Homo sapiens: one gene and its partners. The protein of the gene in region 1 purifies or fractionates together with the protein of each later gene. This does not show direct contact. Each region holds a gene or a part of one and is shown in the gene's direction. Other genes may lie near its edges. The genes, in order: DPF2, HDAC2, PKMYT1, SMARCE1, MRPL45, HNRNPAB and TPI1.

The links.
Region 2: the proteins of DPF2 (region 1) and HDAC2 purify together in Homo sapiens (affinity purification with mass spectrometry; 2 studies listed by BioGRID, with this or other methods). This does not show direct contact.
Region 3: the proteins of DPF2 (region 1) and PKMYT1 purify together in Homo sapiens (affinity purification with mass spectrometry, with the first as the bait; one large-scale study listed by BioGRID). This does not show direct contact.
Region 4: the proteins of DPF2 (region 1) and SMARCE1 purify together in Homo sapiens (affinity purification with mass spectrometry; 11 studies listed by BioGRID and IntAct, with this or other methods). This does not show direct contact.
Region 5: the proteins of DPF2 (region 1) and MRPL45 purify together in Homo sapiens (affinity purification with mass spectrometry, with the first as the bait; one large-scale study listed by BioGRID). This does not show direct contact.
Region 6: the proteins of DPF2 (region 1) and HNRNPAB purify together in Homo sapiens (affinity purification with mass spectrometry, with the first as the bait; one large-scale study listed by BioGRID). This does not show direct contact.
Region 7: the proteins of DPF2 (region 1) and TPI1 purify together in Homo sapiens (affinity purification with mass spectrometry, with the first as the bait; one large-scale study listed by BioGRID). This does not show direct contact.

Annotation. Positions count from the first base shown.
Region 1 is NC_000011.10:65,343,851-65,347,627, forward strand, and holds part of DPF2 (zinc finger protein ubi-d4), read left to right. Parts: intron 1-140; coding exon 141-219; intron 220-729; coding exon of another isoform or gene 730-771; intron 772-1,815; coding exon 1,816-1,953; intron 1,954-2,079; coding exon 2,080-2,208; intron 2,209-2,396; coding exon 2,397-2,509; intron 2,510-3,777. UniProt on the Homo sapiens protein: Plays an active role in transcriptional regulation by binding modified histones H3 and H4. Is a negative regulator of myeloid differentiation of hematopoietic progenitor cells. Might also have a role in the development and maturation of lymphoid cells.
Region 2 is NC_000006.12:113,957,378-113,961,154, reverse strand, and holds part of HDAC2 (histone deacetylase 2), read left to right. Parts: intron 1-1,136; coding exon 1,137-1,249; intron 1,250-2,388; coding exon 2,389-2,506; intron 2,507-3,777. UniProt on the Homo sapiens protein: Histone deacetylase that catalyzes the deacetylation of lysine residues on the N-terminal part of the core histones (H2A, H2B, H3 and H4).
Region 3 is NC_000016.10:2,977,502-2,981,791, reverse strand, and holds the start of PKMYT1 (membrane-associated tyrosine- and threonine-specific cdc2-inhibitory kinase), read left to right. Parts: upstream 1-1,345; 5' UTR 1,346-1,506; exon of another isoform or gene 1,507-1,573; intron 1,574-1,798; exon of another isoform or gene 1,799-1,879; 5' UTR 1,880-2,134; coding exon 2,135-2,144; exon of another isoform or gene 2,145-4,290. UniProt on the Homo sapiens protein: Acts as a negative regulator of entry into mitosis (G2 to M transition) by phosphorylation of the CDK1 kinase specifically when CDK1 is complexed to cyclins. Mediates phosphorylation of CDK1 predominantly on 'Thr-14'. Also involved in Golgi fragmentation.
Region 4 is NC_000017.11:40,637,771-40,641,547, reverse strand, and holds part of SMARCE1 (SWI/SNF-related matrix-associated actin-dependent regulator of chromatin subfamily E member 1), read left to right. Parts: intron 1-3,777. UniProt on the Homo sapiens protein: Involved in transcriptional activation and repression of select genes by chromatin remodeling (alteration of DNA-nucleosome topology).
Region 5 is NC_000017.11:38,314,114-38,317,890, forward strand, and holds part of MRPL45 (large ribosomal subunit protein mL45), read left to right. Parts: intron 1-3,777.
Region 6 is NC_000005.10:178,207,510-178,211,681, forward strand, and holds the end of HNRNPAB (heterogeneous nuclear ribonucleoprotein A/B), read left to right. Parts: exon of another isoform or gene 1-772; intron 773-961; exon of another isoform or gene 962-1,406; intron 1,407-1,820; coding exon 1,821-1,938; intron 1,939-2,622; coding exon 2,623-2,763; intron 2,764-3,043; coding exon 3,044-3,114; 3' UTR 3,115-3,654; downstream 3,655-4,172. UniProt on the Homo sapiens protein: Binds single-stranded RNA. Has a high affinity for G-rich and U-rich regions of hnRNA. Also binds to APOB mRNA transcripts around the RNA editing site.
Region 7 is NC_000012.12:6,866,300-6,870,544, forward strand, and holds the start of TPI1 (triosephosphate isomerase), read left to right. Parts: upstream 1-1,267; coding exon 1,268-1,382; intron 1,383-1,805; exon of another isoform or gene 1,806-2,210; intron 2,211-2,564; coding exon 2,565-2,688; intron 2,689-2,799; coding exon 2,800-2,884; intron 2,885-2,958; coding exon 2,959-3,091; intron 3,092-3,388; coding exon 3,389-3,474; intron 3,475-3,749; coding exon 3,750-3,837; intron 3,838-3,965; coding exon 3,966-4,084; 3' UTR 4,085-4,245. UniProt on the Homo sapiens protein: Triosephosphate isomerase is an extremely efficient metabolic enzyme that catalyzes the interconversion between dihydroxyacetone phosphate (DHAP) and D-glyceraldehyde-3-phosphate (G3P) in glycolysis and gluconeogenesis.

The DNA of each region.
Region 1 (3,777 bases):
GTGCTGCCTGCATCTTGGGACAGGGTGGCCTAGGGAATTCCTTATTTTATTTCAAGTGAGATTAGCGGCCACTTCCAAAAGAGTCTAACTCCTCAGGCCCAGCTACCAAAATAAGGGTGTCTCTTTGCTCTTCTTGGCAGGGTAAGGGTGTGGGCAGTGCCCGTAAGAAGCTGGATGCTTCCATCCTGGAGGACCGGGATAAGCCCTATGCCTGTGACAGTGAGTGCCTCACAAGTGGGTGGGTAGACCTTGCCTTGGACCCAGCTCCTGCTCTGGATATGAGAGGAGGGAGGGTTGTGTTTTTGCCCAGAGTATTAAAACAAACCTGGGCTCTTGTCCTGCCTGCTGACTGCTTCCGTCTGAGACCCCTGGGAGGCCTGGGTCCCTGCTATATGACGGGTGGGACCTGCATGCTCTGGGAAAGATTTCTGCCATCCTCTGGGGTAGGGTTGCTTGTGGGGGCCACAGCAGGCAGGGTTGGCCTCTCAACAGATGGCCTGCAGGTCTCCTGGCCTCAGTTAAGCCAGGGCCCCAGGGGTCTGACACTGAGTTTTTCAACGTCTGTTCTCTTTTTCTTTCTGTCTGCCTTGCCCCACTTCTGTCCCTCCACCCTGGGAGCACCATCGCCGCTGGGGTTTCTCTCTCGTTTGCTCTGCTTTCCTGCTGCTGCTGCTCCTGTCTCAAGTGTATCAAGGCCTTCTTCTCATGACTTTTCTTTCTGTCTTTCAGATAGTTTCAAACAAAAGCATACCTCGAAAGCGCCCCAGAGAGGTAGCTCTCTCAACTTTTCAGACTTGTGGTTTTCCTTTCCCTTTTTCCCTCTTCCCTTGTTCCTCCTGCCTTTCTCATTTCCTGGGATGCTAGCTTTAAAATCTCTGGAATGGCATGGGGGTAGGAGCAGTGGAATTTCTGCTGTGCTCTACTCCTCAAAGTCCTGAAGGCTGCCTTTACCACTGCTTGTTTCCCACAAACCTGCTCCTAGAGCTGCTCGGCCCAGTGCATGGGGTGGCTTCAGAAGCATTATCAGGAGCCCATTACAATCAGACCCTTCCGCTCCCTCCCCAGACCAGGCAGCTGGTGGTCAGCTCATGTTCCCCACTGCCCCACCACCTCCTCCTGCCATCCTCTCTCCCCACTCCTTTCCTGCTGGCCCCCTTGCCCTTCTTGGTATTACTTCTCAAGATGACAAAATGCCTCATGGGGATCTGCTTTCCTTGCTGATTGGCAGGCCTGGACAGGGCAATTACATGGGAGTGTGCTTGAATTTCTTTGGGGACCAACTGCCCAACTGGCTTCATTGATAGGCTATCCCCAAGAAACCCATCCCCTGCTTGTTTACCCACATTCAGGGGAGATGGGCTCCATGGTGTGTGGGGTAGCATGAGCCTCCCACATTTACTGAGGGGTAAAAAAGTTTGGAGTCTTATCCACTTTTCCCCCTTCCTGCCACCCCAAAGATATAGGAATATCCTTCCCTTTCCTGACCTGGAGCGTCCCAGACTGTTAGTATATCCCAGAGCAACTAACTGGTGATGGGGCAAGGGCTAAGCCCCCCAAAAGTCAACATGGAAGAGCAGTGGTGGCCATGGGGTTGGAGTTCAGGAGGGAAAAGAGCCCCAGAAGCTAGAGAGCCCCACGGCCTGATGCTCCTGGCTGAGGGGAAGTGGCCGTCACTCAAGGCCTGTCCCAGAGTGGAGCTGCTAGGGGAAGGGATGGTTGCCCTCTGCCTCAGGTGGAGCCCCCACAGCTTGCAGGGATGGGGACATGGCACTCTTGTATCCTAACACCTTTCTCTGCAATCTTCTTCCCACTCAGTTTGTGGAAAACGTTACAAGAACCGACCAGGCCTCAGTTACCACTATGCCCACTCCCACTTGGCTGAGGAGGAGGGCGAGGACAAGGAAGACTCTCAACCACCCACTCCTGTTTCCCAGAGGTCTGAGGAGCAGAAATGTAAGCTGAGGTGTCAGAAGTGGTGGGCAAGCAGAAGTTGGCCTGGTTATGAAAACCACTCCTTGCATGGGTGTTGAGTGGCTCAGGGACCCCCATGGGTGTCATCAAAACTCTTTCTCTCTGTAGCCAAAAAGGGTCCTGATGGATTGGCCTTGCCCAACAACTACTGTGACTTCTGCCTGGGGGACTCAAAGATTAACAAGAAGACGGGACAACCCGAGGAGCTGGTGTCCTGTTCTGACTGTGGCCGCTCAGGTACTGCTTCCCGTGAAGGCTGCTGCTTTGCCCAGTCCCCAAGGGGCTCTTGGCTTGCTGGCCTCTAGGGCTGTCATAACCAGCCCACCTCGCTTTTCCTAACCAAGAGAAGATGTAGCCACAGGCAGGAGCTCCTCTCTTCCCCCCGCATTTCCGACTGTCTGTCTCACTCACTTCCCCCACTACAGGGCATCCATCTTGCCTCCAATTTACCCCCGTGATGATGGCGGCAGTGAAGACATACCGCTGGCAGTGCATCGAGTGCAAATGTTGCAATATCTGCGGCACCTCCGAGAATGACGTGTGTATCCCCGCCCCCTCCTCAGCATGGCTCCTTCTGGGCTTTTACTGCTGTTTGCACAGTTCCCTCTAAAGTGAGCTTTCTTTTAAAAAGGGAGCAGGATCCCTCCCACATGCCACACGCCCCTCCCTAGCATCTCAGTCAGAACTCTGATTTGTTGCCAGATATATATTGAGTGCTGATTTTATGTCAGACACTGTTCTAGTCACTAAAGATGCTAAAGACAAACAAGGTCCCTGCCTCATGAGATTTACATTCTTACAGGAACAACAATAAGCAAGGATGTAAATGAGATTTGTATAATGTGCCATGAAAAAAACGAAATCAGTACTGTGGCAGAGAATAATTGCATAAGTGATTTATTTTGATGGTCAGGTATGGCTCTTCTGGGAGGGTGATGCTGGTGTTGAAATTTTGGTGATACCAAGGAGCCAGTCAAGATTTGGAGGTAGAGGAATCCCAGGAAAGGAGCAGCCAGCGCCAAGGCCTTATGTTGGACAAGCCAGATGACAGGGCATGGGAGAGTATGGTGGGCAATGAGATGAGAGAGGCAAGCACTGCCAGATCTCTGGGGCCTCGGGTTTTATTCTAGGTACAACAGGACACTGTTGAAGGGTTTTACTCGGGAAGTGACATGGTTATTTATGTATTTATTTATTTACTTTTTTTTTTTGAGATGGAGTCTTGCTCTGTCGCCCAGGCTGGAGTACAGTGGCACAATCTCAGCTCACTGCAACCTCTGCCTCCTGGGTTCAAGTGATTCTCCTGCCTCAGCCTCCCAAGTAGCTGGGATTACAGACACGTGCCACCACACCCGGCTAATTTTGTATTTTTAGTAGAGATGGGGTTTCTCCATGTTTGCCAGGCTGGTATCGAACTCCTGACCTCCGGTGATCCGCCTGCCTCAGCCTCCCAAAGTGCTGGGATTATAGGCGTGAGCCACTGCACCCAGCTATTTATTTATTCTTTATGTATTTATTTATTTATTTTGAGACAGAGTCTCTCTGTCATCCAGGCTGGAGTGCAGTGACGCGATCTTAGCTCACTAAAACCTTTCCCTTCAGGCTCAAGCAGTACAATCCTCCCACCTCAGCCTCCCGGGTAGCTGGGACCACAGATGCACACCACCATGTCTGGCTACTTTTTTATATTTTTGGTAGAGACAGGGTCTTGCCATATTGCTGAGCTGGTCTCAAACTCCTGAGCTCAAGCAGTCCTCCCACCTTGGCCTCTCAAAGTGCTGGGATTACAGGCATGAACCCACCATG
Region 2 (3,777 bases), on another chromosome or scaffold:
ATAGACTTCAAACCATTAAAATAGCTTGACTGTCCTGACCCTGTGGGGAATTAGTTCCAAGACTTCCACAGATAGCAAAATTCATGGGTGTTTAAGTTCCTTCAATAAACTGGTATAGTATTTGCATATAACCTATGTATATCTCCCCTTACACTTTAAGTCATCTCTAGATTACTCATAATACCTAATACAATGCAAATGCAGTGTAAATAGTTGTTACACTGTATGATTTAGGGGAAGATTACAAGGAAAAAAAGTCTCTACGTGTTTCCAGCAGACACCACCATCTATTTTTTAAAAATATTTTCAGTCTGCAGTTGATTGAATCCACAGATACAGAGGGTTGACTTTATATATTTGAGAGGCTTCTTGTTATTTACTATTATAGGAAACACTGGAGCTTTACCTAAAAGTATTAATTTTATTGAAATTTAGTTGATGAAAATCTGTGATTTTGTTATTTTCTCTTTTTTAAATCTTATGCATAAGTTTAAAGACATTGTGATATAAGATGCCGTTTAAAAAGACAGGCTAGGAATTACAACTTTTTAGTCATGAAGAATGAGACAGTATTTTTATTACCTTGAAAAATGTAATGCTGTGTCTTAGTGGAGCAAAACCTCATTTAGGACCTAAATTTCAGTTACCAAAACTTCCCTGATGGGCTTTAATATGGACACGGTATGTTTTAACATGCAAAACGCCAATTATGAGATTTCTGAAATGCCAGCAAATCATCCAAAAAGCAGTATTTGCTGAAAAAATTTTAAATCATACCAATAAAACTCAGAGAACTTAAAAGCATGTGAATTTGCCAGAGAATACAGAAAGCAGGCATCATTTCAAGGAACAGAAATTTTAAAAATTGGGGGTAGCTAAAAATCAGAAAAGCTTGCTTTCCTTAATCTACAAATAAATATAATGTGTAATAATGGAGTCTTCAGCTGGTAAAAGTGTGCGTAGCGTCTTAGTCATCTGATACAGTTTGAAAGTTGCAAAATAAATCTAAGTTGCTAAGGTTTTAAATAAATTTTGTTAAGTAGTAAATGCCTTCTAATGATAGACATACATAAATTCAAATAGTTCATGGAGGGTCTCTTGTCTGTATTGTTTAGTTTGTGTCTTTTCTATTTTAGGTGATATTGGAAATTATTATTATGGACAGGGTCATCCCATGAAGCCTCATAGAATCCGCATGACCCATAACTTGCTGTTAAATTATGGCTTATACAGAAAAATGGAAATATATGTGAGTATTCCTTTTAATACATATTCAGCACTGATCTTTTTTATTTTTTTTTAGCTACTGTGAAACTTTGTCTATTATTCCCCTTTTGAGGGCATTTAGCAGATGAAAAGATCTGGAAGAAAACAAACTTCTTTTTTCGTTTATTCTTAGGAGATGAATAAGAATGAGAGCTATACCCTCTTTTTCCTTTTCCTTTAACCATTTAAAAAAGTTCCCCCTACCCTAGGCTTTCATGGTTCTGGAGAACAACTCAGTATAGCAACAACTCAGTGTAGCATATTAAGTATTTTTTTTTTTTTTTTTTTTTTTACAATAATTGTTAATCTGCCTGTGCTGCTGAAAAGAGTTGACCTGGGACTGTTACAAAATAATAACACATAAAATTAATCCCACAAATATTTGCAGGGCATATAATACATATGGAATACTGTGTTAGTGTGGCCAAGCATAGTACAGATAACACAAGTGCAACAGCTGCCTTAATGTTTTTGTAGATAAAGATGAGGGTATGTATAAACAAATACAGACACGACAATTAGCTATTTGGGGAGAAAAGAAATATTTAAAACAATTAATGCTAGGCAATATATGTGAATATGTGAATTATTTTCAGTTACATGTAGACATTTAGAGAAGAGGGGAAGTTAGAATAAGACTCAGTCTGGAAGTCTTGTGGAAGAATTGTGTCATACGTGAAATTGAGCTCTTCGGAACAAGGAAGATTAGGATAGAAAAAAGGACGAGAGGTCGTGAACAAAGATTTAGAATTGAAAACTCTTGTAGTGAGTGATTTCATTGATGAAATCACTGGATGTTTTATCATGGAAAAGGAGAGAAAGTAGAGTTTATGAACATATGGATTTGACTTTTTACTCGAACTGTTTCCACTAAAATAAGGAGTGATTAAATCATAGTTGATATGCCTGTGTAATGCTTTTAAAGGAGTTTGAATTAGTTTTGAGATTGATTACTGTTTTCTAAAACACATATAAGTTTGGGTTAGTTTTGGAATTTATATATTTTGTTCTGGTAGACTTGGTTCTTTTGAGGGGACCGATAGGGGAATTTGTATATTTGTTTGATAATACTGATATAACCGGTTGTAATTCCACAGTTCTGACATTTATTTCTCTTCACAGAGGCCCCATAAAGCCACTGCCGAAGAAATGACAAAATATCACAGTGATGAGTATATCAAATTTCTACGGTCAATAAGACCAGATAACATGTCTGAGTATAGTAAGCAGATGCAGAGATGTACGTTTCTAAGTAAAAAGTAGTTTTGCTTTGATAAATGTAAATTAGTATTTTTAGGAGCTTAGAATGATCTAAATCTGAATATTTTTCCTGTTGGTCTAATATGTTACAGTTATTTACTGATTTGAAAAGTCATTTTAACACTACTAAAGCTACTTAAGAAAAAAGTAAACCTATCTGAAGCTTATTGGTTTGCAAAACTGCTGTTTGGGTATTCTTCTACTCCTAGTTTGCTCCCCTGATAACTTTGGGTTAATACATATTGGTAGGGAGACCTCACTCCCTTACTCCCTCGCTTCAAAAAAACAAAAACAAGATTACACTTTGATTAGCCTTAGCTTGGCATGTACATATCTCTTGTCTTGTCTTTGTGTACTTCAGTTAACCTGGACTATAATACACATCTCTTTTTCTTTGTTAAGATATTAGTGAAGCTTTTGATTCTACGTAATGTTCTCTTGTACAGGTTAAAAGTATTTTATTTTTAGAGATTAGTAACAAATTGGCTTGAAGGTAGAATGCAAAAGTCAACCTAAAATTATTGGAACAGTATCTTTTAAAGCTTGATACCAAAGTTCATTCTCATTAGTGTTTGTATTGACTGACTTCAGTGATGATTATACTAAATTAGTGTAGGTGCTAGACATCTCATATTTACAACCTCATACACATTTCTGCCATATCTTGTTTGATTTGTTATAATGCTACAATGTAACTAGAACATGTAGTATTTAATTTTTTTTTTTTCAATGAAGATTCCAACTTAGATGCAAAAGAGGCATGAGTAGCCCTTGGGCAAACAACATAACAGGATTGATTTAAAACCCACATAATAATGAGTTCTATTAAGCTTATGATCCTGGCCAGGTGTGGTGGCTCACGCCTGTAATCCCAGCACTTTGGGAGGCGGAGGTGAGTGGATTACCTGAGGTCAGGAGTTCGAAACCAGCCTGGCCAACATGGCAAAACCCTGTCTCTATTAAAAAAGTACAGAAAATTAGCTGGGTGTGGTGGTGCGCGCCTGTAATCCCACTACTCTGTAGGCTGAGACAGGAGAATTGCTTGCTTGAGCCCCAGAGGTGGAGGTTGCAGTGAGCCAAGCTCACGCCATTGCACTCCAGCCTGGGCGACAGAGTGAGACTCTGTCTCCAAAAAAAAAAAAAGATTATGATCTCTCTGTGCAGTAAGAAACTAAAATTCATTTCTTATAGTGCTTGTGACTTAAGGGTATACAAAGATATTAATATACAAAACAAGGACCCTTATTCTTG
Region 3 (4,290 bases), on another chromosome or scaffold:
CGGAAGCGTACTCCTCCCACCCAGTTAAACAGATAAAGAGCCCCTCGGTGAGGGAAGGAACAATCCCTAGCCCGACTTGCTCCGCGAGGGCCCCTGCTAATCACTTTAGGGGATCATCCCAGCGTCCTCAGCTGTTTTTTTTTTTCCAGGAGAGGAGACTAATCCGAAGCTCAGAAAGGCTCAGTGCATTCCCAAGGTCGTTCAGCCAGGAGAGCGCTGAAGGGATCTGAGCTGAGAGCAAGTCTCAAACTCAGAGAATGGAGGAGCTGCCCCGGAAGTGGCTGCTCGAGGCTGCAGTGAACTATGATCCTGCGGCCAATCGCGGTGGCTCACGCCTGTAATCCCAGCCTTCTGGGAGGCCGAGGCGGGCGGATCGCTTGAGGTCAGAAGTTCGACACTAGCTTGGCCAACATGGTAAAACACCGTCTCTACAAAAAAATGCAAAAATTAGTTGGGTGTGGTGGCGCGCGCCTGTGGTCCCAGCTACTCAGGAGGCTGAGGTGGGAGGAACGCTTGAGCGGGGGAGGCGGAAGTTACAGTGAGTCGAGATCGCCCCACTGCACTCCAGCCTGGACAACAGAATGAGACCCTGTCTAAAAATAAAATACATGAGCCGAGTGCGGTGGCGCGCGCCTGTGATCTCACATACTCGGCAGGCTGAGGTTGGGAGAACCGCCTGAACCTGGGGACTGCACCACTGCATTCCAGCCTTGGTGACAGTGAGACCCTGTCTAAAAAAAAAAAAAAAAGTATCTGAGGCCTGTTGGCAGGGAAGCTGCAGGCAGGCGAGGTCAGGCCAAGCAGAGTCCTGCCTATCTGGAGAGCTTCCTGGAAGAGGCGGCTTTTTCTGGCTCCCGAAGCCGTGCGCTAGGGGTTGGGGGTCGTGCGTCTGGCCTCCCACCGCGACCCTGGTTCAGAACACGGCCGGAGTGAGAAGGGGGGTGCCGGGACCCAGGAGGCCGTAGGGACTTCCTGGTCCTACCCGGAGTAACCCTGGGGCTACGCCTGCTCCGAGCACCGGGATGGCGGTCCCTTTTATGGACCCAAACACTACGCCAGCCCAGCGAGGGCGGTGGGTGTCGGGTGCGAGGCCTGGAGGGCAGTGGGCGTCCCAGGGACTGGGCGGCTGAAGCCCCGCGCAGCGACTCAGAACCAGGCCGCCACCCACGCCCCGGGCCAGCGCGGAGAATCCTGTGCGCCTGCGCAGTGAGCGGCGGGGCGGCTCGGCGGCGCGCACGCAGCACGAGGGGCGGAGCCTCGGAGCCCGGGCACCCCTGACGGGCTGCACTGGGGAGGGGGAGGAGCCTCGAGGCCGGTTTGGAATTTTTGGCGCGAGCAGCTCCGCGCGCGTTCACGGGCCGTTCCCCCTCACGGGAGTCCTCCGCCCGGGCGTCCGGAACAGTCGACGGCAGACTCCGGCCCGCTGAGCCACCCGAGGGGTCCCGTGGCCTCCGCGGACCCGGAATCTGGGCCCTCGCGGACCCGCGCCCCGCCCAGTCGCCCCAGGTGAGCCCAGACCCCGCCGTGAGGGGCCTCGGCGTGGCCACCTCGCCGCTCCCCTCCGCCTCGCCAGGTCTGCGTTACCCCTGCCCCTCAGGCCTCCCCGGCGGCCCGCTCGCGTCCCCTCAGGCCCGCCCCCGCGAGCCCCTGCCTCCCGTCCTCCCCAATTCCTGGTTCCCTTGCCTCGAGCCCCTTCCCAGCGGCGGTCCCGCCCTACTCGCCCCTCCCGGAGACCCCGCCTGCTGTCCATCAACCCCGCGCCGCCGCCCTCCCCGTGACAGTCCTTCCTCCGTGACAGCCCCTGCCCCGGGACAGCCTCTCTTCTTCTGCAACAGCCCCTCTTCCCTCGTGACAGCCCGTCCACTGCTCTGTTCGCCAGGGCTTCCCCACACCCACGGAGTGAAGTCAGCCGCGGCCCTGCCTGGGAGGAACTTACCGTCTACCGGGAAAGGTGGCCAGCAGATGTGTCGGGCCTGGTGAGAGGGTGAGGCGAGACGGCCCGATCGCCCAGGGCCCCGGAAGCTGCGGAGGTCACCCCCGCCTGGCCTTAGCTCAGGGACACCCTGGATTCACGTGGGAGCCCCTGCTCCTGCCTCCCCCGTCCCACCACTGAGGCTGTTGGGCCAGGCCAGTCATGCTAGAACGTAAGTCGTAGGGCAGGGACGGTGGGAGAACTGGGTTAAGATGCACAGGCCCAGGTCCCCGAGTGTGCCAGGGTTGGGCCTGGAGGCTGTGCTTGTGACCAGTGACCTCCAGGATCCCAACACCCTGGCTCCTGACTTGGAGAAACCCTGGGCTGGGACTCTGAGGTAGTTAGAGTCAGAGGAAGAGTCTCCACAAGATGGAGGGCAGCCTGCCAGCCAGGCCCAGGTAGCATCGCTCCCCTCACCCCTGTACTCCCTCAGGTACTGGAGACTGCTCTTTTTAATTTTTTATTTACTATTATGTATATTTTTTTGAGATGGAGTTTTGCTCTTGTCGCCCAGTTGGAGTGCAATGCCGCAATCTCGGCTCACCGCAACTTCCACCTCCTGGGTTCAAGCATTTCTCCTGCCTCAGCCTCTGAGTAGCTGGGACTACAGGCATGCACCAGCACGCCCGGCAAAAATTTGTATCTTTAGTAGAGATGGGGTTTCACCATGTAGGCCAGGCTGGTCTCGAAGTCTTGACCTCAAGTGATCCACCCACCTTGCCTCCCGAAGTGCTGGGATTACAGGCGTGAGCCACCACACCCAGCCGCTCTATTGTTTTTTATAATACTTTGGTGCACCAGCCTCACCAACATGGTGAAACCACATCTCTACTAAAAATATAAAAATTATTCTAGTGTGTTGGCACACGCCTGTAATCCCAGCTACTCAGGAGGCTGAGGCAAGAGAATTACTTGAACCTGGGAGTCGGAGGCTGCAGTGGGCCGAGATCATACCACTGCACTCCAGCCTGGGCAACAGAGTGAGACCCTGTCTCAAAAACAAACAAACAAACAATACCTTGGGGCATAAAGTGTTCCACGGTCCAATCCAATTAAATTTTTTTTTTTTTTTGAGACAGAGTCTCGCTCTGTTGCCCAGGCTGGAGTGCAGTGGCATGATCTTGGCTCACTGTAATCTCTGCCTCCCAGGTTCAAGCAATTCCCCTGCCTCAGCCTCCCGAGTAGCTGGGACTACAGGCATGCACCACCACACCCAGCTAATTTTTGTATTTTTAGTAGAGATGGGGTTTCACCATGTTGGCCAGGCTGGACTCGAACTCCTCACCTCAGGTGATTTACTCACCTCAGCCTCCTAAAATGCTGGGATTACAGGCATGAGCCACTGTGCCTGGCCAGATCCAATTAATTTTGAGCTCCTTTGACAGGGTGGCTTTTGAGGTCAGTGAGGTTTGTTCTGACAGCAGGCAGGCTCTTCCTAGCTAGCTCTTTCTCCACTTCTCTGTGGTAAACTAGCTGGCCTATGGTTCAGCTGGTTGCCCTAATGCGGGTACCAGTCTCTTCTTAATGGCGCACCACCAAAACTTCCACTGATTTTGACAGCCCCTTTAAACTTGAACTTCCCTACGCACTGTTTCAAATCAAGCCAATTTTCAGGGGGTTGGTGGGTGGGGAGAGCTCTATTTATGACCTACGTCTACCCCTAGGCTAAATCTCTGTCTGAGCCATGCTGTGGAACTGGGGGCAGGACAGCGGGGCACCTCTCTGAGTGCTGCTATTGCTTTAGGAGCAGGTCGCTGGGTTGGGCAGGAGCCTCTGGCCTTCTTGGTTGCCCTCTCCCAGTGTGGAGCCTCCTTCCTACAAATGAGCTGGGGCTCCATGTTCCCAGCCTGCCGGGCCTGAGATATAGCCTCTATTCTATGCTTGGGGGCAGGTGGAAGAAAGGAGCCCCTGGCCTGTCTGCCACACTCAGCTGGAATTTAGCCTCTGCCATGTGGAGCTGGGAGGGTTGAGAAGTGCTGAGAACCTGGCCCTCCTGGGCAAACACCCTAACCCTTGACGGGGAGCTGGGGGAGAGGGAGCCCTTCTTCTTGGCCACACCTGCCCCCAGTGCTAGGCGGGGGGAGAGGGGTGCTGGAGGTGGGAGGGCAGGAGTGTCATGGCTCAGGTGCCAACAGGCTTGCCATTATTCCCAGGCCTTGGCAGGTTTTCTTGTGTAAACCTTTGTTTGCTGTGTGCCCTGGGCACCATGCCCAGAGGCTTTCAGTGCTTGCTTTTGAATAATCGTCATCAGTTGTGCTGTTTCACTGGGGCAGGGGTCCACGGAGCTGCACACACTGCCATTCTGGAAGTGGACACCA
Region 4 (3,777 bases), on another chromosome or scaffold:
TTCATAAATAACAAGTGCCTTCTATTAATGTAACTTCAAAAAAGCCCTCTCACCCTGTAGTCAAGCTGGAACTGAAAGCTTGTAGCTATCAAATGAATGTCTATCTTGATAAGCATATTGCTTAGCTTGATAGGTTTTGTTTGTCTAAATTTTTCATTGTTTCTGCATAATATGTACTTCATAAGCATATCAAGTTTTATGTGCCATGCATATTTCATGGTATCTGAAAAAGAATTCTGACAAAGTGTGTGTATGTATGCATTTCACAATGCATACAATTTTTATGTGCATCAATACATGTTTTTCCCTGGCCTAAACATGTTGTTTCACAAGTGTAATGGATGGCAAGGTTTTCAAATGATAAAGAACATTTCAGTTTAAACAATGAACGGAATCAATCATGGATCTTAATGTTAATGCAGCAATTTTTTCACGGGCAGTAAACAAGAATGATTGCATTTAATAGCTCTATACAGTCACCTCTTGATTATCTATGTTAATGGAATAGAAATGATAACTATAATATTACAGTAATTTGTCTTTTGGTTTTGTGTAAGTATTTTGCTCTTAACTTGGATGTAGCTGTGGGGGATTCTCAGTTAAAAAAGTGAGATTGTTCGATGGAGACTAGGAAGAGAAAGTGTACTCCCTATCTGAAGTCACTCATCTGTTTCTTCCCATTCCTTCTTGGCGAATGTTAAGAACTGAACATTTGGCGTGGACACTAGCTACATAGTAGATTAATTATAGAGAGTTGTTGGACATGGAAAATTTGGTGTTTTGGTCCTTTGTGGACATTTACTTTGTATTATTGTCCTCTTAACACCAAATTGAAGTATAATCAAACTGCTATATGAAGAAGGGCCTAGAAAATGTGGAGGTTTTACACTACTTGCCCTGCTTTCTATATCTAGTTTAAGCTGTTAGGACTCAATGGCTCTGATTTTGACCATAATAAAAGCATTTTGATTTTACTATGACCCTAGTTATGCATTACTTTTGGGGGTGAGGGGAAGCTCCTGTATGGTATTGTTGTGCGCAGATTGCATTAGTGGTTTTCAAGGAACGAATCTGTGAAGCCCTGTCCAGTAGCTTGTGGTAGGCTGTAGAGAACATTGGGTTTCCCTGATGACTCCAGTATACTTGGGTAGTTCTCAGACAGTAAATACTTTGTATAGCATGTCGAGACCTTTTGGAGTGCTTATGATAGCTACAAGATGGAATTCACTCCTAGTCAGTTCTTCATTCAGATGATGATTAACATTCTCTTAAGTACAGGTGTGAAAACACATTGAGACAAAAATGTCTTTAAAAACAGCCTATTTCTGTACATTAATAGAAATTCTGCCCCAGAAGAAAGCTCTTAAATAAGTTCTTGCTAGAGAAACAGCTGAGAATTGCAAAAGAAACAACAACAAAAAACTGAGTAACCAAGATAAATTTCACAAAACCATGAACTTTATTCATAGGAGATTTCCTAGGACCTTGCTCTTCTGTAAGCACAGTTCTACCCGCCTCCCCATTGGAAATTGAAAGCAGAAAATTGGAAAGAGAGTTGCTGCTAGAGGTGGGTTTCCTGATAGTAGCAAGGAAAGAAACAGTTCAAAAATGGAAACACATTCTCCAAAAGCATAGCCCCTAGGCCGTTGAAAGAGTCAACAACAGATTTTGACATCTGACAGAGGGTTACAGCACAGCAAAACAGTGGTTGTTTCTAATTGAATCTTATCCAGAAAGGGTCTAAAGTATGTTCAGCTTTTTTTAAAGAAATGTTTAAGACATTGTAGAAAGATGTCTGTCTGAGACGTTAAATAAATTGGAGGTGTGTAATGATATAAATCTTTACTATCCTGAAAACCATCTGGAATTTAACTTTATTATTGTTTTGGGGTGTTTTTTTAGTTTGGGTTTTTGTTGTTGTTGTTGTAAGTTGACTGGTCTCAATATACAGATGATTTGTGTACCTTTCTTTGGGAGAAAGGAGGGGAAATAGCAATTCCATTAATATAAAATGTGATTCTTTGAAAAATATCAAAGAGCAAATACTACTGTGTTTTTAAAGTGTTTTAATTCATATTAAAGCTCGGAAGCATAGGCATTTTAGAATTCTTTACCTCTTTAATTTCAAAAAATTTTGACAGTGGTCTTACCACCTCAGTTATGGGCACAATTCCAACTTTATTTGTAATCCATTTCATGGAATTCTGAAGGTTTGTGTTGGATATGAGTTGGAAATACTTTCTAGTAACTTTATGTGTGAAGAAGCAGACTTGTGTGTGTCTGTTCCTCTGAATCCATAAGGTTAGTCTTATAGGAATTCTCTTTCCCCTTGAAAGAACTATAGACCCTGATACAGGTTTCCCTGTATTGGCTGCCCATCCTACCACTTTTGACAGTTTCCATGCCCCTGGCCATCTCACTCTCTTACCCACTGCTGGCCAAAAACAGTGTCTGTCTACCTGGGCACTAGCATGAGGTGTGACAAGAATGCATGGGAGGAATGGAAAGAGAGGAAATACTGCTTCCAAGGCGAAATGCTTTGAAGAAGTAGAGTTATAGGGATGGAGAGAGACCCTTGTAGGAAGAGGAAACATTTCTTGATCATAGTGGAAAAGGACACAAACATGCTAATCCCTGAGCCCTCAAATGAAAAATAAGGTTATGATTGGGGTCCCAGCCCAGAGTGGAGGAGTATCTCTGGGGTTTTATCATAGCAACAACAGAAGGGGAAGCGAACAAAATGTTACTTTAGTTTTCCTATAAGGATTTGCCAATCCTGTCTTTCGATAATTAAAATAAAGCCAACACTTCATTTCTCCAGCCTAGCAGGGAGAGTCAATATCAGAGATCTCCTGAAAATTTGCAAATTGTCTGAAATAGCAATGATTTTTCTTATTCTGGGTCTTTAATCAAATGCAGTCATGTATATTAACAGGAGACTAAAAAGTTCAGAAATAGATACTTTTAGATGGGTGTTATCTGGGTGGTCTACCAGAGGCTGTCTGGAATCTCACCTAGACTTTAAGCCACAGGAAAAACTGATCACTTTATCTTTCTCTTTCCTTCTTTTTTTATTTTTTCTTTCACCTATTTTTGCTTTACCTTTTTAAAAAATATTTTTCAGTCTTCCCTCCGCCTCCTTTTCTTCTGTCTCTCTTTTCCTGTACATCACATCTTTCCTTTTCCTCTGTCTTTCCCATAAAACTGAACATTTTTAATGGAATGGAGCTTCTTGATATAAGACCTCAAAAATAACGTAATCAGGCCCGATATCTGCCACTTCTCTGTTCCTGATAAACTTGTTTGCTTTTACACTGTGATTAGGACTCAGGACAAAACAATGTGTGACTTTTAATTCACACTTCTCATTCCCCTTTACAAGAAAACCACTAGGTAACAGACAGAACCTTAAGAGAAATAAAATCTCTAGCCTGGCAAAGGAGGTAAGGTGGTTTGTTATTTCACTAATTGTTTTTGTTTTTGAACCTGGGAAGTTGTTTTTGTGGTGGTGTTGGGAGTACATTCCTAGTGCTAATAGGTTAAGGCCCCTGTAGACAGTGTGAGAATGGTAAGTGTTAAGGGTTCAGATCCTGCTGCAGATAATCAAGTGTTGACTGTATGTGTAATGGTAATTGAGCAGAATAAGAGGGTACCAGGTAATGTCCTGAACTTGAGACGGTTGATATATAACCATATATTTTCAATGTATGGGTTACTGTGTAATATTTTATTTGTTCTTGCAGCCAGGTTGTCAAAGCATTGGCAATAAACTGCTAA
Region 5 (3,777 bases), on another chromosome or scaffold:
TAGTTTTTGAGATGGAGTTTTGCTCTTGAAGCCCAGGCTGGAGTGCAATGGCGTGATCTCGGCTCACCGCAACCTCTGCCTCCTGGGTTCAAGCAATTCTCCTGCCTCAGCCTCCTGAGTAGCTCAGATTACAGGCATGCGCCACCATGCCTGGCTAATTTTGTATTTTTAGTAGAGACAGGGTTTCACCATGTTGGACAGGCTGGTCTTGAATTCCCGACCTCGGGTGATCCACCTGCCTCGGCCTCCCAAAGTGCTGGGATTACAGGCGTGAGCCACTGCGCCTGCCGTCTTTTCACTCTTGATAGTATCCTTTGATGCAAAAAAGTTTTAAATTTTGATGAAATCCAGTTTTTCAAGTTTTTTTCTTTTGTTACCATATCGAGTTTTTTCTTTTGGTGTCATATTCAAGAAATCATTGCCAAATCCAGTGTCATGAAGTATTTCCCCTTCCTTTTTCTCTAAGATTTTTATAGTTTTAGCTCTCACATTTAGGTCTTTGCTCCATTTTGAGTTAGTTTTTGTATATAGTGAAAACTATGTGATGTTTTTGCTTTTTTTTGCATGAGAATATTCATTTTTCTAGCACCATTTATTGAAGAGACTGTGCTTTCCCATTAAGTGGCCAGGCCGGTCTCAAACTCCTGACCTCAGATGATCCACCCGCCTTGACCTCCCAAAGCGTTGGGATTACAGGCATGGGCCACCGCCTGTCCTCAACAGTGGTTTTTGCAGAAATAGAGAAACACAGCCAGGCGTGGTGGCTAGTTCAACCTAGTTTGAATAATATCAACTTAGTTTCAATAATATACAAACGCTCTGCTCCTATATGTCTCTCCCTCCCACTTCATTATGTCTCTCCTGCTTCATTATCACAGATTACAGTTTTATACCTTGGGTGCCCATTACATCAATTCATAATTATTGTTTTATGCATTTGCCTTTTAAATCATACAGGATGAAAAATGAGGAATTATAAACCAAAAGTACAGTAATACAGGCTTTTATATTTATCTATGTAGTTACTTTTCCTACATAGTAGTAAAACATACATGTTTTTTGTTTTTTTCTTGTGGTTTTGAGTTACTTTCTGGTGTCCTTTCATTTTAGCCTGAAGGATCCCCTTTAGCCTTTGTTTGTTTCTTTTTTATTTTAAAGTCAGGGTCTCACTTTTTCAGCCAGGCTGGAGTGAGCACAGTGGTGCAATGATAGCTGCACTGCAGCCTCAACCTGCTGGGCTCAAGCGATCTTCCCACCTCAGCCCCTGAGTAGCTGGGACTACAGGTGTGTGCCACAGCACCTGGCTAATTTTTTTTTTTTTTTTCTAATTTTTTTGTAGAGACAGGGGTCTCGCTTTGTTGCCCAGGCTGGTCTCGAACTCCTGGCCTCAAGTGATCCTCTTGCCTCTGCCTCCCAATGTGTTGGGATTATAGGCATGAGCTGCTGTGCCCAGCCTATTGCCACTTTCAAGATTCATTCTTTGTGTTTGGGTTTTGACACTTTGGTTTTAATGTTTCTTGGTATGAATTTCTTTCAGTTTATCTTGCTAGGAGGTTTTTGAGCTTCCTGGATGTACATATGAATGTCTTTCATCAGATTTGGGATGTCTGCAGCCATTATTTCTTTTTCTTTCTTTTTTTTTTTTTGCATGTTATTTTTATTTTATTTTATTTTTTGAGATGGAGCTTTACTCTTGTTTCCCAGGCTGGAGTGCAGTGGCCCGATCTCGGCTCATTGCAGCCTCCGCCTCCCAGGTTCAAGTGATTCTCCTGCCTCAGTCTCCCAAGTAGCTGGGATTACAGGCACTTGCCACCCACACCTGGCTAATTTTTGTATTTTTTAGTAAAGATAGGGTTTCACCCTGTTGACCAGGCTGGTCTCGAACTCCTGACCTCAGGTGATCCACCCACCTTGGCCTCCCAAAGTGCTGGGATTACAGGTATGAGCCATTGTGCCTGGCCGCATTATTTCTTCAAATTTTTTTTCTATCCATTTCTTTCTTCTTTTTCTGGGACTCCTATGATGTGTATTTGGTATACTTGATGATGTCCCACAGGTCCCTCAAGGTTTTGTTCATTTTTTTTCCATTATTTTTTCTCTTTGCATTTTAGACTATGTAATTTTAATTACCTTATCCTCAAGTTCACTGATACTTTGCCTGCTCAAACCTGCTGTTGAACCCCTCTAGTGAATTTTAAAATTTATTGTACTTTTTAGCTCCAGAATTTCTGTTTGGTTCCCTTGTATAATTTCTGTCTCCAATGTGTTCACACATTGTTTTTCTGATTTCATTACTTCTTTGTCCATGGTTTCCTTTAGCTCATTGGACATATTTAGGACAATTGATTTGTGTCTTTACTAATAATTACAATGTCTGGGTTTCCTTAGGGGTGGTTTCTGTCAAATTATTTTTTGGTCAGGTGTGGTGGCTCATGCCTATAATCCAGTACTTTGGGAGGCCGAGGCGGGCAGATCACTTGAGTCCAGGAGTTCGAGACCAGCCTGGCCAACATGGTGAAACCCCAACTCTACTAAAAATACAAAAAAAGCTGGGTGTGGTGGCGTGCACCTGTAGTCCCAGAATCTCACTCTGTAGCCCAGGCTGGAGGGCAGTGGTGCAATCCAAAAAAAAAAAAAAAAAAAAAAAAAAAGCAAAAGTGTATTTGTCTGTTTTACATTTTATCCAACATTTCCTTTTTTTTTGAGACGGAGTCTTGCTCTGTTGCCAGGCTGGAGTGCAGTGGCGCGATCTTGGCTCACTGCAACCTCCACCTCCCAGGTTCAAGCGATTCTCCTGCCTCAGCCTCCTGAATAGCTGAGACTCCAGGTGTGTGCCACTGTACCTGGCTAATTTTTGTATTTTTAGTAGGGACAGGGTTTCACCATGTTGGCCAGGATGGTCTTGATCTCCTGACCTCGTGATCTGCCCACCTTGGCCTCCCAAAGTGCTGGGATTACAGGCATGAGCCACCGCACCCGGCCCATAAATCCACCATTTCTAAATGTTTATAGTAGAAGTAGTATTACATTATTGCAAAATAGTAAGTGAACTCATGGAAAATGGAGTTTATTTCCACTGAAGACTTCTATGCCAGGATAGTGGGGAGGAAGAGTTCACTCAGAGGTGCCAGTGATGGTCATCATGGTAGTTGTCACCACAGCTCAGTCTGTTCCTACAGTAGAGGAAATGACTTGGAATCTTTCCTATTAGGAATAGAGATGAAAGGGAAGCAGATAGACATGTTAGAACTAATCCCTTACCCATTCTGGGCTTAGAGAGCAAGATTTTTCAAAGGGGACAAAGAGTTAAACTGCTCATAGTAAACTGGGGAAAAGTCGTGTGTATCTGAAAGAAGCTAATCTATGGCCTTAGGTTTGAGACTCATCAGCTAGGAACCCTCCTAAAATCTTGTATCTATAGGAGCTAGGGTTTGTTGTCTGTTTTGTGTTTTTTTTGTTTTGTTTTGTTTTTTTTTGAGACGGAATCTCGCTCTGTCACTCAGGCTAGAGTGCAGTGGCGTGATCTCAGCTCACCGCAACCTCCGCCTCCCGGGTTCATGCCATTCTCCTGCCTTAGCCTCCTGAGTAGCTGGGACTACAGGCGCCTGCTACTACTCTCGGCTAATTTTTTTTGTATTTTTAGTAGAGATGGGGTTTCACCTTGTTAGCCATGACGGTCTCGATCTCCTGACCTCATGATCCACCCGCCTCGGCCTCCCAAAATGCTGGGATTACAGGCATGAGCCACCATGCCCGGCTGTTTTGTGTTTTTTTAAC
Region 6 (4,172 bases), on another chromosome or scaffold:
TAGAGGTGACAGTTCTAGATTCTTGAGTCCAGGGGTATGAAGCCTGCAGTTTAAGGTCTCAGAAGATCCTAGAACTTCTGCAACTCACTGATTCTCCTCTGTGGTGAAGTTTTTCTTATTCCAGAGCCTTTCTACCTCCTTCTACAACCAAGTCTTTGTCCACTTCCATCCACTTTGAGCACTTTTTTTTTTTTTTTTTTTTTTTTGCTTTGAGACAGAGTCTTGCTTTGTTGTCCAGGCTGGGGTGCGGTAACACAATCATGGCTCACTGCAACCTTGACCTCATGGGCGGACCGGATCCTCCCATCTCAGCCTCTCGAGTAGCTGGGACCACAGGCATGTACCACCATGCCTGGCTCATATGTTTTTTTAAAGCCTGGTCTCACCATGTTGCCTGGGCTCAAGCCATCCTCTGCCTTGGCCTTGTAAAGTGTTGGGATTACAGGCATGAACTGCCTCACTTGGTCTTCTGGGCACCTCTTTAAGTTAACCCTAAACCCAGGCAAAAATCCTTCCAAAGATCTCCCAGGGTCCTGGCCAGCTTAAATCCAGGGTCAGTTGTGCTTTCAAATGAGTGGATTCATGTGCAGGGAGGTGTAGCTCTTCCCCTCCTGAACTCTGGTCAGGGAAAGGGTAGTTCAGGCTTCAAGTTGGCAGTTGGGAGTTGAGGGTGCGGCCTGCAGTGGCAGGGTGTGGCAGGTTCTGTTTCTGAGCAGGAGTTGGCAGCCAGATAAGGTGGGACAGGTGGAACTCCTGGAAGTCTCTATCCTGGCTGGGAGTTTGGAAAGAGTGGATTAGGATAGTCTTAAATTTTCTATAAAATGACAGTCTTTGAGGCAGTTAGGGGAAGCAGTGGTTATTACTCCAGTGGACAGTGATAGAGGCCTTTTTCTCTATGTGCCATAATGGGAAATGGGTGGGAAGAGCCTCTAAGGCAGAGTTTAAGTGAAACTACTGGTAGTGAGTCTTAGGAGTAAGTATATTTAGTTGGTTATATTCAGTATTTTTAATTTAGTAGGATAGAATATATCAGATTGCATTATTTTAATTTGCCAATTAAAAGTATGACTGGGACACTGTAAAATGTACTATTTTTAATGGGTGTGCATGTCAGGATTTTCTTTAGAAATACACTGGTCTGGTCTAATTTATTTAAGCAGGAGCACTTTAAAGTATCCCACCCTACCCCATTCCACCCCCAGTGGACAGAAAGGAAATTGACTGACTTGAGGGGATGCAGACATCTGGGTTATTCCAACAGACCAGTGGTTAGGAGGAGGGGGTGGGTAGCATTATGGCCTCGGGCAGGCCCCCCCACCCTGAGCCTCTGAAAGCTGACTTTATCTGTAAGAGGGAGGTCAGGCTCGCCTTCTCAATAGCGTGTATTTGGATGAGATGAGTTTCTTCTGTAAAGAGAAAAAGATGTTAAAACCTCATTGTCTAAGGCCCCTCATCTGAGAAGTCTTGTCTGACCCTCTAGCCCAGCAGGACCAAGGTGTGGTGCCTGGTCCCAGCCTGTCCTCTGCTCCCCTGGGCTGCAGTTGGCCCAGTTGCCTGCCTCCATTAGATACGGAGTTGCTCTGGGGCTGAGATGCCCATCTCAAGTGCATTCTGTCGGAAGGGTTCTCTGCTGGAAGGCCTTTGGTTTTAGTTGGGATTCCATGAGCTTTAGCCCAAAGGTGGCCTCCCATACTAGCATATTTTGTTTCTCAGCAAATGGACCTGATCCACCATTTGATGTTTGTCGCAGTGAAGGTGTTTGGGCAGTCACTGCCCTGAGTTTGTCCTACTGGCCTGACCACTGTCCTCTTGACTTTTAGTGTGAGATCAAGGTGGCCCAGCCCAAAGAAGTCTATCAGCAGCAGCAGTATGGCTCTGGGGGCCGTGGAAACCGCAACCGAGGGAACCGAGGCAGCGGAGGTGGTGGTGGAGGTGGAGGTGAGTGGAACGTGGATGAAGATAGGTCCTGTTTCCCTGCCTACATGGAGCCTTCCAAGCCTGTCTTGGGGCTCCCTCTGGTGCTGTGCAGCAGGGGTGGGCAGATTGTGTGAGGTTGGGGACGAACAGGAATAGGAACGGCTCTGGGTCAGGGCTGTATGCTTGAGGCTGTTGCCTGCTGCTGCCCCTTGGAATGGCTTGGGTGCCCAGGGCAGAGAGAGCATTTGTGTTACACTCTGGGGGAGGGGATGTGATGGGTGTCTTGGCTTTGTGGATGTCCTGAGTCTGGTACACCTGTGAGCAGGTAGGCAGAAGGGTGGGTAGGGCAGAGCTGTGCCAGGCATTTATCCCCTTCCATCCCAGGCCCCTCTGACTCCAAAGCCTGAACTGCATCTTTTTAAAGGCTAAGCTGCCAAGGAGAGTGGGAGTGATCAGAGAGTGACTGAGTGAGTGAGCTGCCTTGTTTGCCCCAAGTAAAGTTAGCATCCTGGTCTCTGATCCTCTGCTTGGGTCTCTCAGATGCAGGGTTGGGCCCAGGGCCCTTATACACCAGAACAGCAGCCCCTTGGCTTCTGCCTGAGTTGCCACAGTAACCCTGCCACCCCAAAGGGCAGGATTTCCTCCATCCTAGCTCCTGCGTATGCTAAATGGTCCACGGGCCCCTGTGCCCTGCTCCCCCCACAGGTCAGAGTCAGAGTTGGAATCAGGGCTACGGCAACTACTGGAACCAGGGCTACGGCTACCAGCAGGGCTACGGGCCTGGCTATGGCGGCTACGACTACTCGCCCTATGGCTATTACGGCTACGGCCCCGGCTACGACTACAGTAAGTAGGAGAGAGGGAGGCCCCATCCGCTCACCCCTCGTCCCCAGGGGAGGCAGGACAGTGTAGGAGCCACTGGCAGCAGGGGCTTTGGAGTCAGACAGGCCTGGCTCAGCCATGGGAGCTACTTGATTTTGAGCCTTAGACTTCGGGGTCTTAATAACATGAGGAAGGCAGTCTCTGCTGTCACGGCTGGTGAGGGTCCTGGGAAGATGCATATCAAGCGCGTGGCACAGGGCAAATGCTTGTAAATAGTAGCTGCTATGGTTGTTCTCGTCCCTAGGTCAGGGTAGTACAAACTACGGCAAGAGCCAGCGACGTGGTGGCCATCAGAATAACTACAAGCCATACTGAGGCGGCAGCAGGAGCGACCAACTGATCGCACACATGCTTTGTTTGGATATGGAGTGAACACAATTATGTACCAAATTTAACTTGGCAAACTTTCTATTGCCTGTCCCATGTGCATCTTATTTAAAATTTCCCCCATGGAAATCACTCTCCTGTTGACTATTTCCAGAGCTCTAGGTGTTTAGGCAGCGTGTGGTGTCTGAGAGGCCATAGCGCCATCATGGGCTGATTTTTATTACCAGGTCCCCCAGAAGCAGGTGGGAGGCTCTGCTTCCTGCTGCCGCTCTGCAGCCTGGACCTGTGGACCCTGGTTGTAAAGAGTAAATTGTATCTTAGGAAACCAGTGTCACCTTTTTTTCACCTTTTAATTTTATATTATTTGCGTCATACATTTCCTGTAACGGAAGTGTTAATTTTACTGTACTTTTTGGTACCTTTTGGGAATCTAATGTATTGTAAGGTATTTTACACGTGTCCTGATTTTGCCACAACCTGGATATTGAAGCTATCCAAGCTTTTGAAATAAAATTTAAAAACCCCCAAGCCTGGGTGAGTGTGGGATATGCTGTGTGAGACCTCTTGCTCAGGGTCGAGGGAGGCGGGGGGGGGGTGCCAGGTGCCCTGGACTTGGGGCTTTCTCCTGCAGCAGGCTCTTCCAGCTGCAGGCCCAGTTGTGGGGGTATCCTTTAAGGACTGCCCTGCCTAGGGCTGAGCCCCCCTTCAAAGAAAGGAATGAGAGGCCTATGGGGAGTGAGGATGGGGCAGTGATGAGGGCTTACATCCCCAGCAGGCATGTCCCCTCCTGGGACACCTTGGAACACCAACCTTCTTGGCTGATGAATGAAAAAATGGGATTCTTTACACACTAGGGCAGTGCCAGGGCCGTCTGAATTGGGGCACAATAGTGCTCCTCCTGGCTGGTGAAGAAAAGCCTGCTCTGGCAGGGGATGTTTATTGGCTGGATTGGAGCCCAACTCCAGGTCTGGTATTTAGGGCATAAGACTAGGTGGTTACAAGAGGCAAGGGTGGGTTGGGGTTCCACGTGGATACAGCCCCATAGG
Region 7 (4,245 bases), on another chromosome or scaffold:
CTGTCTGTAAGGAGACTTTGTTGCTTCCCCTGCCCCCGGAATCCACAGTGCTCTGCTTCTCTGTGTCGCCCCGCCCAGCCCCCTGGTGTGGAGGGAGGGGTCTCGTTTGTGCGCGTGGGTGTAGCTTTGTGCATCCTCTCCCAGTGGAGCGATCACCTGTGCCTCCCCTCCCCCTTTGTTTGCCCCTGTGTGGTTGGTCAAGGAGGGATGTGAGGGAAATAGGGACCCCCCGACTTGCCCTCCTGCCTCAGTCTTTCCCCCACCCTGTCTCTTCCTTGTCCTTCTCTGGAAAATGCCAAAATACACGATGTGAATAAAAGTACAACGGCTAAATTGTGTCCTGTTTGATACCTTGGGGGAGAGGCTTACCTTCCTGGGGTTAGCAGGAGGGCGCTTAAGAAAACTCCTAACTCTGGCCGCCTCCCTGCCAAAGTCAAGTCTCCACTTTTCACTGGTTCTAGAGCTCTAGGAAAATTGGGGTTGGGTGGGGAGGTGGAGTAGAGTGACTAAATGCCGACACAAAGCCAAGGAAAGATGGAGTGAAGAACCCTTCCCTCTCTTTATTCACACAGGAGTGGAGGATTTCCCAAATGTCCCTAACTGGCTAGCTGGCTTCAGGCTGGGACTCAGTCCCTGCAGTTCCTGCCAGGCCTTGCCAGCCGGGGCGAGGGTTGGGATGATCCTGGCGGCCTATGCCTGTGTGGGCTGCCCCTCCCGCTGTGAACCCTGCATTTGTCCCGCAAGTTTTCACTCAGGTAGACTCCCTGGGTACAAGGGTGCCTGCTCAGCAGTCGGGCATGAGCTGCTCCGATGGGCGAAGGAGGTTGTCTATCCCACAGTTGGAGAGGGGCCCTCTCTGCCCCAGTGGGCGATCTGGGCTACGGCCAAGTTGCCACCAGCTAGTTCCGCTTGAAAACCACTTCTGGCCCCGTGGGGGACTCAAGTCGCCAAGCGAGGGTTCCCCTGAGCGCCGGAGCTCACAGGTCTCGCCTTGTCCCGAAAGCCCCGCAATCGAGGCGGAGGCGACCGAGCCCCCGACTCTCCTAGAACGTTGCCACAAGAAGGGGGAACGTCGGAACAGTGCATCATCGGGCGGCGGCCGGGGCGGCGGCAGGAGGGCGGGCGGGGGGCAGGGCTCCGGGGGACTGGGCGGGCCATGGCGGAGGACGGCGAGGAGGCGGAGTTCCACTTCGCGGCGCTCTATATAAGTGGGCAGTGGCCGCGACTGCGCGCAGACACTGACCTTCAGCGCCTCGGCTCCAGCGCCATGGCGCCCTCCAGGAAGTTCTTCGTTGGGGGAAACTGGAAGATGAACGGGCGGAAGCAGAGTCTGGGGGAGCTCATCGGCACTCTGAACGCGGCCAAGGTGCCGGCCGACACCGGTAAGCCCTCGCCGAGGAGGGGTCTGGCCGGGCCGGGGCCGGGGCCGGGGCAGGAGTGGCAGCGCCCTCTCCCGAGGCCCCGAGGCCCCGAGGCCGGTATCCGCGCGGACCTGATGCAGGGCTGTGGGACGAGGGCCGCTGGGGTCCGGGCAGGGGCCTCGCAGCCGCAGCCCCGTCGGTGCGTCGAGGGGGCAGGGCGGAGCACATGATGCCCCTTGGACTATGGGGCAGGTAAGGACGTTTTGGGTCTCCTGGAGGAAGGTGGCCCCGGGGCGCGCACTGGGGCTGTGCCCGCCAGGCGACGGGGTTAGGAGCGGAGCCCGAGGCTCTGCGGGAGACCGGGGGAGGCTGGGCCGCGTGGGCTTCCCGCTCCCTGCGCCCTGGCCTCCCGCGCCGTGCGCCGCCGCACGTAGCCCCAGACTCCTCCCCTTCCTCGCCGGCGTCCGCGTCCCCGCGCCGAGCTGCTCGGGCTCCCTGAGCCCCAGATCTGACCCCTTCCCTTCGGCAACCTGAACGACTCCCGCCTTCCACGGAAGGGACCGAGCCCGTGCCAAACAGGCTGAGCGATTTGGGAGTGAGGAGCCATCCTACCGCTTTCCCCAACCTGGAAACAGCAAAGCGCAAGGCCTCTGAGTCAGTTAGGTCTCTGCCACCCACGGGCAAAGGATGCTCTCCTCCATCCTCCTTCCTCCCTCCACCGAAATCGGAGAGCCGCGGGCCTGATCCAAAGAGGCATCCCCTTCTCGTTCATTCCCCAGAGGCCTCAATACAAACCCCAGGAGTTGGCCCCTCTCCTTTTGCTACAAATCCTTGCCTTGCAAAGGGGAGGTGAGGATGGGCTATTTTAGAAGGGAAGCAGGGTTGCTCCCTGGAGAATGCTGAGTCTGTGAGGTGCCTATGCCGAGAATAGCTCGAGGAAATTGGAGCCCCAGCTGTTAAAAGAGCAGAGGGCAGGGTGAGGGCCGTGGCCTCTCAGGGGTATCTGGAAGGCTCTTCGAGTTGAGTGCAGACCCAGCCTGGGCTGGAAAATGGACAAAGGTCATCTTGCTGGGGTGAAAAGGGGGAGAGCAGAACCAAGAAGAAGAGGGTGAGGGCTGGGGGGCTCCAGGGCACTGGTTAGGAATTGTGGGGAATGAAGGCTTTCTTTAGTCTCATCCCCCTGTGGTACCATCTTGTCCTCAGAGGTGGTTTGTGCTCCCCCTACTGCCTATATCGACTTCGCCCGGCAGAAGCTAGATCCCAAGATTGCTGTGGCTGCGCAGAACTGCTACAAAGTGACTAATGGGGCTTTTACTGGGGAGATCAGGTGAGATCGAGGTGGAGAGGGGTGTGTGGGACCCTTCCCTCACTTTCCTCGTTGAGGGGAAAGCCACAGGGTGGGCTCCCTGCTGAACCTTGGCTTCATCTCTTCCTTTAGCCCTGGCATGATCAAAGACTGCGGAGCCACGTGGGTGGTCCTGGGGCACTCAGAGAGAAGGCATGTCTTTGGGGAGTCAGATGAGGTTAGTAGCCAAGAGAGAAGATAAGGGATGTCTTTTTCCAAGAAGGATGTCTCACCAAGTCTGTTTCTCAACAGCTGATTGGGCAGAAAGTGGCCCATGCTCTGGCAGAGGGACTCGGAGTAATCGCCTGCATTGGGGAGAAGCTAGATGAAAGGGAAGCTGGCATCACTGAGAAGGTTGTTTTCGAGCAGACAAAGGTCATCGCAGGTATCTCTGGAGAAAGGGACCTTTGAGCCTATCCAGGGCCACAGAGACTCAGAGGGTAGGGTCAGGCCCTGGAGCCTGTCTTGGTCCCCATGCTGATCCAGAAAAGGAAAAAGGGGAGGGGGAGTGACAATCTTTGCTTGGGGCCTATGACTTCTCCAGCCCCAAGGTAGATGCCACCTGGAAATCCCCCAATGTCCACTAGGGGGCAGTAGGCCACCGTTCTTCGTACTCCGGAGAACCTGGCTGGAGAGCTCTTTCTTGTTCACCCTTCCCTCCATCTGTATCTCTGCCCTGCAGATAACGTGAAGGACTGGAGCAAGGTCGTCCTGGCCTATGAGCCTGTGTGGGCCATTGGTACTGGCAAGACTGCAACACCCCAACAGGTAACCGGGCCCAGGAGCCCTGCCCTCATCCCAGCCTGCCTCAATAGGTTTGGACAGACACAGCCCACATGGGGCAACCCCTTATTTCAAAGACACAGAGACCTTGAACCCAGAGACAGTGACTTGTCCAAGGGCATCCAGTCCAGGGCCTGGCTTGGATCAGAGCCCTGGTACTCTGACTCAGTCAGAAACCACACTAAGTGTCCACTGGTGCCAGTGATTTTTCCTCTTAGAGAGGCAGAAAAGGTCTTACTTAGGCCAGCTTCTTGTTCTAGGCCCAGGAAGTACACGAGAAGCTCCGAGGATGGCTGAAGTCCAACGTCTCTGATGCGGTGGCTCAGAGCACCCGTATCATTTATGGAGGTGAGTGGCTTTGGTTCCCGGCTGAGGTGGAGTGGGCTGAGGACTAGACTGAGCCCTCGGACATGGAGGTGGGGATGGGGCAGACTCATCCCATTCTTGACCAAGCCCTTGTTCTGCTCCCTTCCCAGGCTCTGTGACTGGGGCAACCTGCAAGGAGCTGGCCAGCCAGCCTGATGTGGATGGCTTCCTTGTGGGTGGTGCTTCCCTCAAGCCCGAATTCGTGGACATCATCAATGCCAAACAATGAGCCCCATCCATCTTCCCTACCCTTCCTGCCAAGCCAGGGACTAAGCAGCCCAGAAGCCCAGTAACTGCCCTTTCCCTGCATATGCTTCTGATGGTGTCATCTGCTCCTTCCTGTGGCCTCATCCAAACTGTATCTTCCTTTACTGTTTATATCTTCACCCT